Linked DNA regions of Homo sapiens. The protein of the gene in region 2 purifies or fractionates together with the protein of the main gene of each other region. This does not show direct contact. Each region holds a gene or a part of one and is shown on either strand. Other genes may lie near its edges.

Evidence for each region.
Region 1: the proteins of PRODH (region 2) and CAPN11 fractionate together in Homo sapiens (co-fractionation; one large-scale study listed by BioGRID). This does not show direct contact.

The regions. Positions count from the first base shown.
Region 1 is NC_000006.12:44,178,495-44,183,745, forward strand, and holds part of CAPN11 (calpain-11), read left to right. Parts: intron 1-1,124; coding exon 1,125-1,136; exon of another isoform or gene 1,137-1,457; coding exon 1,458-1,669; intron 1,670-1,965; coding exon 1,966-2,005; exon of another isoform or gene 2,006-2,006; intron 2,007-2,102; coding exon 2,103-2,168; intron 2,169-2,253; coding exon 2,254-2,311; intron 2,312-2,438; coding exon 2,439-2,503; intron 2,504-2,757; coding exon 2,758-2,826; intron 2,827-4,446; coding exon 4,447-4,525; exon of another isoform or gene 4,526-4,535; intron 4,536-4,624; coding exon 4,625-4,741; intron 4,742-4,949; exon of another isoform or gene 4,950-5,053; intron 5,054-5,210; coding exon 5,211-5,251. UniProt on the Homo sapiens protein: Calcium-regulated non-lysosomal thiol-protease which catalyzes limited proteolysis of substrates involved in cytoskeletal remodeling and signal transduction.
Region 2 is NC_000022.11:18,918,182-18,923,432, reverse strand, and holds part of PRODH (proline dehydrogenase 1, mitochondrial isoform 1 precursor), read left to right. Parts: intron 1-253; coding exon 254-318; intron 319-499; coding exon 500-616; intron 617-1,028; coding exon 1,029-1,108; intron 1,109-2,009; coding exon 2,010-2,091; intron 2,092-3,634; coding exon 3,635-3,727; intron 3,728-3,835; coding exon 3,836-3,982; intron 3,983-4,941; coding exon 4,942-5,117; intron 5,118-5,251. UniProt on the Homo sapiens protein: Converts proline to delta-1-pyrroline-5-carboxylate.

The DNA of each region.
Region 1 (5,251 bases), on a different chromosome or scaffold from region 2:
TCTACTGTGTGCCAGGCCCCTGTCCAGTCTCCAGGGGTTCAATAGTGAGCAAAACAGACACAAGCCTTGCCCTACTCTTAGGGCCATTAGTCCACCAGGCTAACAGACTGGTGCCTCAGGATAACATTTTTGCTGGGGGAGGTGGCTCATGCCTATTATCCCAGCACTTTGAGAGGCCGAGGTGGGAGGATCACTTGGAGGATGCCCAAAGAATTTAACACCAGCCTGGGCAACACAGCAAGACCCTGTCTCGATTAAAAAAAAAAAAAAAAAAAAAAATTAGCCGGGCATGGTGGCACACACCTGTGGTCCCAGCTACTCGAGAAGCTGAGGTGAGAGGATCACTTGAGCTCAGGAGGTCGAAGCTGCGGCAAGCCATGATCGCACCACTGCTCTTCAGCCTGGGCGCAGAGTGAGACCCTGTCTCAAAGACATCTTCAAGGTTAAAAAAGCTCAGGAAAGACTACTGCAGCCTGAGCTCTCCGGTGCACACAAGCACACTGAGGTGCTGATAAGCCACCTCTGCAATAGAGCAACCTGTTTAACTTGGTTTAACTCACATTTTTACAAACTTATTTGTCCTCGATCCTCAATTTTAGTAATCTTCTATTCACTTCCTGCAGGATATGAGTGTTCCACGGAAAAGCAAAACACTGTCCTAGATTTTTATCCTAACTCTTTCACTTTTCAGCCATCTGAGGTTGGACAAATCACCTCACATCTTTGGGATTCTGTTTCCTTCCCTTAACCTGGAATGATAAAAATCTACCTTGCATAAACTGTACTTTCCTATCCAAAGCTGAAGGAATTTTTTTTTTTTTTTTGAGACAGGGTCTCACTCTATTGCCCAGGCTGGAGGGCAGTGACATGATCGTGACTCACTGCAGCCTTGACCTCCAGCTCAAGCAATCCTCCCACCTCTGCAGCAGAGGGATTGTTAATGCCAGGACCTTTGAACTGTCAGAGCCCGTGCCCCACTCCACCACCAGTATCCCAGTGCCCTTAATACCCCTCCAACAACACACACACACAGACACACACTATACACATCCCACTTGGCTTCTGAAGGCCTGAGGCCCTTCACCACCCTAGAGATCTGACTCTCCTCTTTCTTCCCTTCCCAGGTCCCAAAAGAGGTACAGAAGATAAAGATGTGGGGCTTGTTCCTGGACACATACCCACTCCACCCCTGGCTGCAAGTGGATTGGCAAAGGGTGGAATTTGGCGAGAGGCTCTGGGGGTCACTGGGTTAGGATTCCAGCCCTCTTCAGGGCTGGTAGGGGTCGGGAAAGGAAGAGACCCTGTTGGAGTTGCGGGCCACTTAGATGGTGTCCAGGCCAGGTCAGTTGGTGGTGGCACCTACCTCCAACCCTGCCCGGCCAGGCTGTTCACCCTGGGGGACCCTCCCTCCCTAACCTCCCATGCCAGTCCTGTACCCACTTCCAGGATGCATATAGTTTCAGAACATTCAGGATGTCCACTTGAAGAAGGAATTCTTCACGAAGTATCAGGACCACGGCTTCTCAGAGATCTTCACCAACTCACGGGAGGTGAGCAGCCAACTCCGGCTGCCTCCGGGGGAATATATCATTATTCCCTCCACCTTTGAGCCACACAGAGATGCTGACTTCCTGCTTCGGGTCTTCACCGAGAAGCACAGCGAGTCATGGTAAGGGGCTGCAGCTCACTGCTCCAAGGCCCGCCACCCAAGAGCTGCAGGATATCAAGCTCAGGGAGCTGCTGTCGGGTCCTCCCTCACTTTGTCCCTATTTTACAGTCAGGGAAACTGAGGCATGAGAAGGTGAAGTCCCAGTTAGTGGCAGAACCAGAACTAGAACTAGAACCCATATTCCATGGAGCTGCCCTATATTGCTTCAAAGACATGACATGACCCCCAGAGCACCCCACTAAAACCCCCACCTCCCTCCCCCTGGTAACTCTTGAGCTTTCAATCATTTTGCCCAGGGAATTGGATGAAGTCAACTATGCTGAGCAACTCCAAGAGGTGAGGGGAGACTGTAGGGCTGGGGGTTGGAAGGAAGCTCCTGGGCCTGTGAAAGAAGTTTTCTGACCAGGTCCCTTTCCTGCTCCCCGGCCCCCAGGAAAAGGTCTCTGAGGATGACATGGACCAGGACTTCCTACATTTGTTTAAGATAGTGGCAGGAGAGGTGAGCAGGCCACGAGCGGAGGGCTGACAGGAGGGGGATGAGGGGCTGGAGGGGCCCGAGTGGGGTTCACAGTTCCCCTTCCTAGGGCAAGGAGATAGGGGTGTATGAGCTCCAGAGGCTGCTCAACAGGATGGCCATCAAATGTGAGTCTTCCACTCCTGCTGCACACGACCCCTCCCCCATATTTTGTGCCCCTCTTGATCACTCCCAGTGCCCCCACGATACCTCATTTACCCTGTCTCTCCTTTCTACCCCTTCCCTTCCTCACAGTCAAAAGCTTCAAGACCAAGGGCTTTGGCCTGGATGCTTGCCGCTGCATGATCAACCTCATGGATGTATCCTCCTGTCCAGTGCTCTCTTGGCCCTGTCCCCTGCCCACAAGCCTGGCCCAGAGATGGCCACCCTGGGCCAGCCACGTCCTCCTCCCTGATGGGGATTAGGCTCTGGGGTAGCAGAAGATGCCAGTTCTTCTGGCTGCTACAGTACCGGAACCCCAGGGCTTGTGTGTCCCCTCAGGAACCCCCGCTGCTTCCCTATCCCCTGGGATGCCTTCTTCACTCCTTCTCTGCTGTCCTTGACCACCTTCCAGAAAGATGGCTCTGGCAAGCTGGGGCTTCTAGAGTTCAAGATCCTGTGGAAAAAACTCAAGAAATGGATGGTAAAGGGCACTAAAGGGGCAGCCTCCAGGGGTGAGGAAAAGAGGGTCTTAGGAGAGATGGAACTAATGAGGGGAAGCTAGAACCCAAGCCCTAACCACACACACACACACACCCAACCACACCACACTCACACACACACACACACACTCACATACAGACACAACCACACCACACACACACACACACACTCACATACAGACACAACCACACCACACTCACACACACACACACTCACATACAGACACAACCACACCACACATACACACTCACATACAGACACAACCACACCACACTCACACACACACATACACACTCACATACAGACACAACCACACCACACTCACACACACATACTCACATACAGACACAACCACACCACACTCACACACACACACACTCACAGACACAACCACACCACACTCACACACACACATACACACTCACATACAGACACAACCACACCACACACACACATACACACTCACATACAGACACAACCACACCACACACACACACACTCACATACAGACACAACCACACCACACACACACATACACACTCACATACAGACACAACCACACCACACTCACACACACATACACACTCACATACAGACACAACCACACCACACTCACACACACACATACACACTCACATACAGACACAACCACACCACACTCACACACACACATACACACTCACATACAGACACAACCACACCACACACACACATACAGACACAACCACACCACACACACACACACATACACACTCACATACAGACACAACCACACCACACACACACACACATACACACTCACATACAGACACAACCACACCACACTCACACACACATACACACTCACATACAGACACAACCACACCACACTCACACACACACATACACACTCACATACAGACACAACCACACCACACACACACACACATACAGACACAACCACACCACACACACACACACACACACACACACTCACATACAGACACAACCACACCACACACACACATGAAAAGGGTCTGTTGGAGTGTGGCATATTACCCAGTCAAAATATTTTATAACAAGTATAGCTCAGGTATCATCTAGTCATGAAGGATGCACACAAAGAGCGCTGGGCAGGGCACCAGTGCCCCCGACAACCCATGCTTGGAATTAACCCTTAGGTCACCAGATGATAGGAATATCAGGAGTGGGCCAGGGTTGGAGGGGGGCATGGGGTCTTAGGCCACTGCTGTGAGCCAACTGTCCTAAAGTATTTCTTTTTCTTTTTTTTGAGACGGAATCTCACTCTGTTGCCCAGGCTGGAGTGCAGTGGTGCGATCTCTGCTTACTGTAACCTCCGCCTCCTGCCTCAGCCTCCTGACTAGCTGGGATTACAGGCATGCACCACCACACCCAGCTAATTTTTGTAGTTTTATTAGAGACGGGGTTTCGTCATGTTGGCCAGGCTGGTCTCAAACTCCTGACCTCAGATGATCCGCCTGCCTCGGCCTTTCAAAGTGCTGGGATTACAGGCATGAGCCACCGCGCCCGGCCTCAGTATTTCATTATTTCAACCACCATGCCATGCATGTGGCCCTACCATATCTGTCTGTCTCTTCAGGACATCTTCAGAGAGTGTGACCAGGACCATTCAGGCACCTTGAACTCCTATGAGATGCGCCTGGTTATTGAGAAAGCAGGTGGCCAAGGGTCAGGAGTGGGCCTTGGGGCAGGGAAGAGGATGGCAGTGTCCAGAGGCCCAGACTTTTCCCCTCCCCACTTCTCTCTCCCTCTCTCAGGCATCAAGCTGAACAACAAGGTAATGCAGGTCCTGGTGGCCAGGTATGCAGATGATGACCTGATCATAGACTTTGACAGCTTCATCAGCTGTTTCCTGAGGCTAAAGACCATGTTCAGTGAGTTAGGCATCTACCCACTCCCCAGCCTAGGCCAGGGGCCGCGGGCCCTTTCCCAAACACCCACCCTGATGGGTGCTGCTCCAGATCCCCTCCCCCTTACAAGGCACACATGAAATGGATTCAAAGCCCAGCTCCGCCACTTGCTGGCAGAGGTGACTTGAGCAAGTCACTTAATCTTTCTGTGCCTCCATTCCCTCCTCTTTAGAATGTGGATAATAATAGTACTGCCCTCAAAGGACTGAGGTGCAGGTTAAACCAGTTAGTCTATGGAAGGCAATCAGAACTGGGCCTGGCTCCTGGTGAGGCTATGTGAGTTGCTATCATTAATTCCCCACTTGGCTAGGGGATTTATGTGGGGAACAGCCAGGAACACCTGGTGTCGCCCCTTCCTACCTAGTTGGGAGTGGTTCTTTCGGAACACTGACTTAGCATTCAGCCCCTCTCCCCCGCTTCCTCTGTAACGCAGCATTCTTTCTAACCATGGACCCCAAGAATACTGGCCATATT
Region 2 (5,251 bases):
GCTTGGCAGGGGACAGGCAGCTCCTGTGCCCACTGCTGTCCCACACCTGCATGGAAACAGAAACCCCGCCACGGAGCCCCCTCCCATCTCCACAGGGCCTCTAGAGCGCCATGTGCAAGGACTTCATGGGCGGGGTGGGGTGGGGTCAGGAGCCTGCTGTGGGCTGGCCAGGCCCTGGCCCTCCCTGTCGCACCCTGCGCTGCCTCCATGCACCTCTCAGGGCTGTCATGGCTTTTCCTGTGGCTTCTGACAGGTAGAGTCAGCGATGACGGCTTCATAGCCATTAAGCTCACAGCACTGGGGAGACCCCAGTTTCTGGTAAGTGCTAGAACCTTCCACCTGCAGAGTCTGGTGCTGTGCGAGATCTCAGGGCAGCTGTGGGCATCCACCAAAAACACAGGTGCCCATGCCTTAGAGGCCTGAGCTGGCCACAGGGGCTGTGTGGGGGACTGGGGTGGGCAGGGGCGTGTGCAGATGGCATTCAGGCCTGCGTTTGCAGCTGCAGTTCTCAGAGGTGCTGGCCAAGTGGAGGTGCTTCTTTCACCAAATGGCTGTGGAGCAAGGGCAGGCGGGCCTGGCTGCCATGGACACCAAGCTGGAGGTGGCGGTGCTGCAGGTGGGGCAGCCTTCCCCTTCCCCACTCCTGTGGCTTGTGAGGGGGTGGGCACCGTGGGGTCACACGGGGCATGGTGGGCAGTGGTCGGAGGTGGTTTTGGGAACTCACCCAGGGCATGTGGCTCACTCTGCAGCTGCTGGGGTTGGCCTGGTGGGGAGGAGGAGGTCAGAGGGACTCTGAACAGAGAGGGGAGATGCTGGCAGGAGGGCTGGAGACCCAGCCCTGCAGGGCGTGGGCGTGCATCAGCAGCGGGGTGGGAATAGACCTGTCTATGCAGTAGAAACAAACCAGACATGGATCCTGTTCTTACTAACGATGTAATAAAGCCAGAAACAGCACCAGAGGCCAATGGGTGGGGGGAAGGATAAAATATGAGTGAATGGGGCTGATCCAGGCCTTCTCACTTCTCAAGGAAAGTGTCGCAAAGTTGGGCATCGCATCCAGGGCTGAGATTGAGGACTGGTTCACGGCAGAGACCCTGGGAGTGTCTGGGTGAGAGCAGCCCCCAGGCTGAGAGGACACGAGCATCAGCCATGGTTCCAGCCAAGCCCCAGTGACGTCTCCCAGTCCTGGCTGCCCTGCCTGAGAGGGTGGGCCCTGGGATGACAGTGCTGAAGGAACTGCTTTTCACACAGCAGGACTTGATGGCTTCAGGAGTCCCTGAGGCTGGGGCTGGGCTGGGCAGGGGAGACACAGGGCCAGCACAGACCCCATAGAGGGCTCTTTATAGAATTATCTGGGTCCAGAGCAAAGGTGGCACTCTCAGCCCTCCCTGGAGTCCACGCCGGCAGGTGAAGGATCAGAGCCCCATGCCCCATCCTTGGAGCCAGGGGCTGGGACCCAGATCACCAGGAGCCTCCAGTTGAAGTGGGGAGGTGACTGGGGTGGTGCAGTAGTGAGCCATCCCCTCACACACTGCCAGCCTTGCCCACTGTGTCCTCCCTGGCCGCCCGGAGCTGTGTCCGCCTCCTGCCTGGCTGCCTGTGCTCGGCCCCTCCACAAGCCCAAAACAGCCTAGGGTACTCAGTGTTTTCAGAGCCGCCTAGATGCAGGACTGTTTGTGTTTTGGTTTTAAATTTATTTAATTAATTTATTTTTTATAGAGACCAGGTCTCACCATGTTGCCCAGGCTGGTTTCAAACCCCTGGGCTCAAGTGACCTGCCCGCCGCAGCCCCCAAAGTGCTGGGATTATAAGTTTGAGCCCCCGCATGCCACTGGTTTTAAATTTTTAAACAGAAAACAATATTTATATTTCCTCTGTCTTTTAAAACTGAACACCGAGGTGGGTTTTGTGGTGGGTGGTGAACGGACAGGTTTGGGCCTCGATCCCCCACCCGACCCTAGCACCCACAGGTGGGGGTGCCCCCTCTGCTGATGCGCCTCCTCCCTCAGCACCATGGACCTGCTGGACTGGAGCAGCCTCATCGACAGCAGGACCAAGCTGTCCAAGCACTTGGTAGTCCCCAACGCACAGGTAACACCTCCGCTCCTCAGTGAGGCCCAGCTCAGCAGGGCGCTGCGCTAAGAAGGGAATTCAGCCTGCCACGTGTGTCTCTTGTTGCCTACCCTGGGAACTTAACATGACCAAAATCACTGCACACTATGGCCCCACAGACCCCCTGTGGTCCAGGGGGAAGAAGACAAGCCCACTAGTGTCCACAGAGTGCTTGGCGGGACAGAGACCCACGCGGAGCCTTAAGACACCACAAGGAGAGGGGGTCTGGGGGCCTTCCCCAAGTCATCTGTCTTGTGCATCAGGTCACCCCAAACTTCAGAGGCCTGAAACGGCAGCAGCCACTCTGCTTCTGCCTCATGGTTCTGGGGTTGACAGGGCTCAGCTGGGCAGTCCTCCCCTGGGGTCTCCTGGGTAGCTGTACTCACAGAGTGGTGGCGCTGGGACCTGGGGGAGGCACCCATTCACATGTCTGGGAGTTGGTGCTGGCTGTGGCTTGGGCTTTTTCCCAACATGGCAGCTGGGCTCTAAGGGCCAGTGTCACCTGAGACGTGAGAGCCAGGCAGAAGCTGGGTGACCTTTTCCTGCCTCGCCTCAGAAGTCACACGGTGTCTTTTCTGGCAAGTTCTGTTTGTTAGAAGCATGTCACCAGGCCAGCCTGTATACAGCGGGGAGAGGAATGAGACTCATCTGCCTGTGGGAGGGGGGCCCAGGACCTGGCAGACTGCTTGAAACCACAGCTTAAACTGGGATTCAAAGAAAGAACAGAAGCACCTTCAGAAAACATCCTGCAGAGGCAGCTTTCCATGACACATCTAGCCCCAGTCCACTAAGGGCCCAGCCTCAAACTTAGAGCCCCCGACCCAGAGCCTCGGGGCGCAGTGCGTACAGTGTGGCTGTGCACCAAGGCCACCAGCTGTTGGAGACTTTAGCATGGTGTAGCAAGGGATAGAGTGGTACTGTTTGTGCCCAGTGAGGCAAGGCTGCTGGGGCCAGCAAAGGGGTGAGCGGGAGGCCCTGCGGGATGGGTCCCCACGGCCTCTGAGCACCAGCAACTTGAAGGCCTCATCCTGGTGGTTGCCCTGGTCCCTGGCTACGTGTCAGCACGTGCTGCACAACTGCCCTGTCTGCCTGTAGCCAGGGGTCTTCCTCCTGGGCCCTCTGCCTGCTCCGGGTGGAGCCCTTCTGTTTGACGATTGGGTGATCAGTGTTCACTTGTTCAATGTCACATGGGAGTTGCAGGGGGCTCTCCCACAACGGTGGGGCCTCTGTGGGAACTGGGGAGTACACACTTCGGAGTGCAGGCCTGGACTGAGCCTGGGGCCCACTGACATGGGCACTGAGCTCCCTCGTGGTACCCCTAGGCCCCGCATAGGGCAGTGCACTGGCTGCGTTGGAGGTTCAGGGGCACTGTGCTGCTTGTCCAGGTGGCCCTCCCTCCCAGCCCTGCACAGACGGGTGAGAGGGTTCCTGTGGGCTGGGAATACTGAGAGAGGTTTAGCCTGGGCCTCAGGGTGGCACTTTCCCGCCCTTGCTGTGGCCTGACCGCGTGTTGCACCCCCAGACAGGACAGCTGGAGCCCCTGCTGTCCCGGTTCACTGAGGAGGAGGAGCTACAGATGACCAGGATGCTACAGCGGATGGATGTCCTGGCCAAGGTGAGCTGTCCCGCTCGGGCAGAGGGTACCTGGGACTCGTGGAGAAGAGGGCACCTGCCTCACTTGAGCAACAGTTGCTCCCACTCTCCCACCCCCTGCGCCTCTCAGAAAGCCACAGAGATGGGCGTGCGGCTGATGGTGGATGCCGAGCAGACCTACTTCCAGCCGGCCATCAGCCGCCTGACGCTGGAGATGCAGCGGAAGTTCAATGTGGAGAAGCCGCTCATCTTCAACACATACCAGTGCTACCTCAAGGCAAGCCCCCGCTCAGCCCCTCCCTGCCTGCCCTGGGGCTTGGAGACCCCACAGGAGGGGCTCCTCTCATCTGAGCTCCCTGGCATTTGGCTGGTTTTACACTCAGCACCCACCAGGGAGCTCATGGGATGGAGGAGGGAGTGGGCCGTGCCCCCAAGGGGTTGTTGGGGTCTTCTGCAGCACAGCTCACCCAGCGGGCCCCAGGGTCCAGGAAAGAGCCCCTTAGGTGGTGGCCACAGCCAGGCCTGCAGAGGAGGCTGAGGCCAGGGTGACTGCCTCAGAGTAGCAAGAAAGACCCGCTGCCCGCAACCTCTCCCCTGGTTCTCAGAACCAGCCAAGAGTGTCTAAGGAGCAGGAGGAAGACAACAATCTTTATGAGGGTCCACTAGATGTACCCGACACCCCAAACTTGGAAGGTGTCACATGACCATTTCCTCCAGCGTGTTTTCAGTTCAGCGCCCCTAAGAACCTCCTGAAAGCTTTGGGCCCTCCCCGGAAAGACTCACCCAGGATGTCACATGTATTCAGGGAGCCCACCCTAGCCTTTGGGCCCCAAACTGCTCAGGGATGTTAGCAGGTCCAGAGCTCTCAGGGGTGAGCCGGATGCCCAGAGGACACAGGGTGGCATGGGGAGGGGTCCAGGCAGGAGCATGCAGTATGCACCCCTCCCGGTCGGCCTGGGAGTCTGGAGCACATGATGGCTGCTGGCGCCTGGGCTGCACCCACAGGGCCGTCCACAGGCCACACAGGAAGTTGCAGACGTCCCCACTGCCATTGCTCCTTGGGGACAGAGGTTGGAGGCCCATCCTCACCCACACCTGCTCCAGGTGCCCTGAGCTGCACCTCCCCAGGCAGCTGCTGCCCAGCCCTGGTGACTGCACCTGGGCCCAGGAAGGCCCCATCCTGCTGTCACTTGGGCTTGCCCAGGCTCCCTGTGACTTTTGGCCCTGGCCCCACAGGATGCCTATGACAATGTGACCCTGGACGTGGAGCTGGCTCGCCGTGAGGGCTGGTGTTTTGGGGCCAAGCTGGTGCGGGGCGCATACCTGGCCCAGGAGCGAGCCCGTGCGGCAGAGATCGGCTATGAGGACCCCATCAACCCCACGTACGAGGCCACCAACGCCATGTACCACAGGTGCGCAGCTCTCCCACCCCTCTGTCTTCTCAGGGCAGGGCGCCAAGAAACCAGGCCTGAGGGAGAGGCTTGGAGACTGAACTTGTCAGCCACATGTGTCCCCAGGTCAGAACTGGTATTTCCTCAGCTTTTAT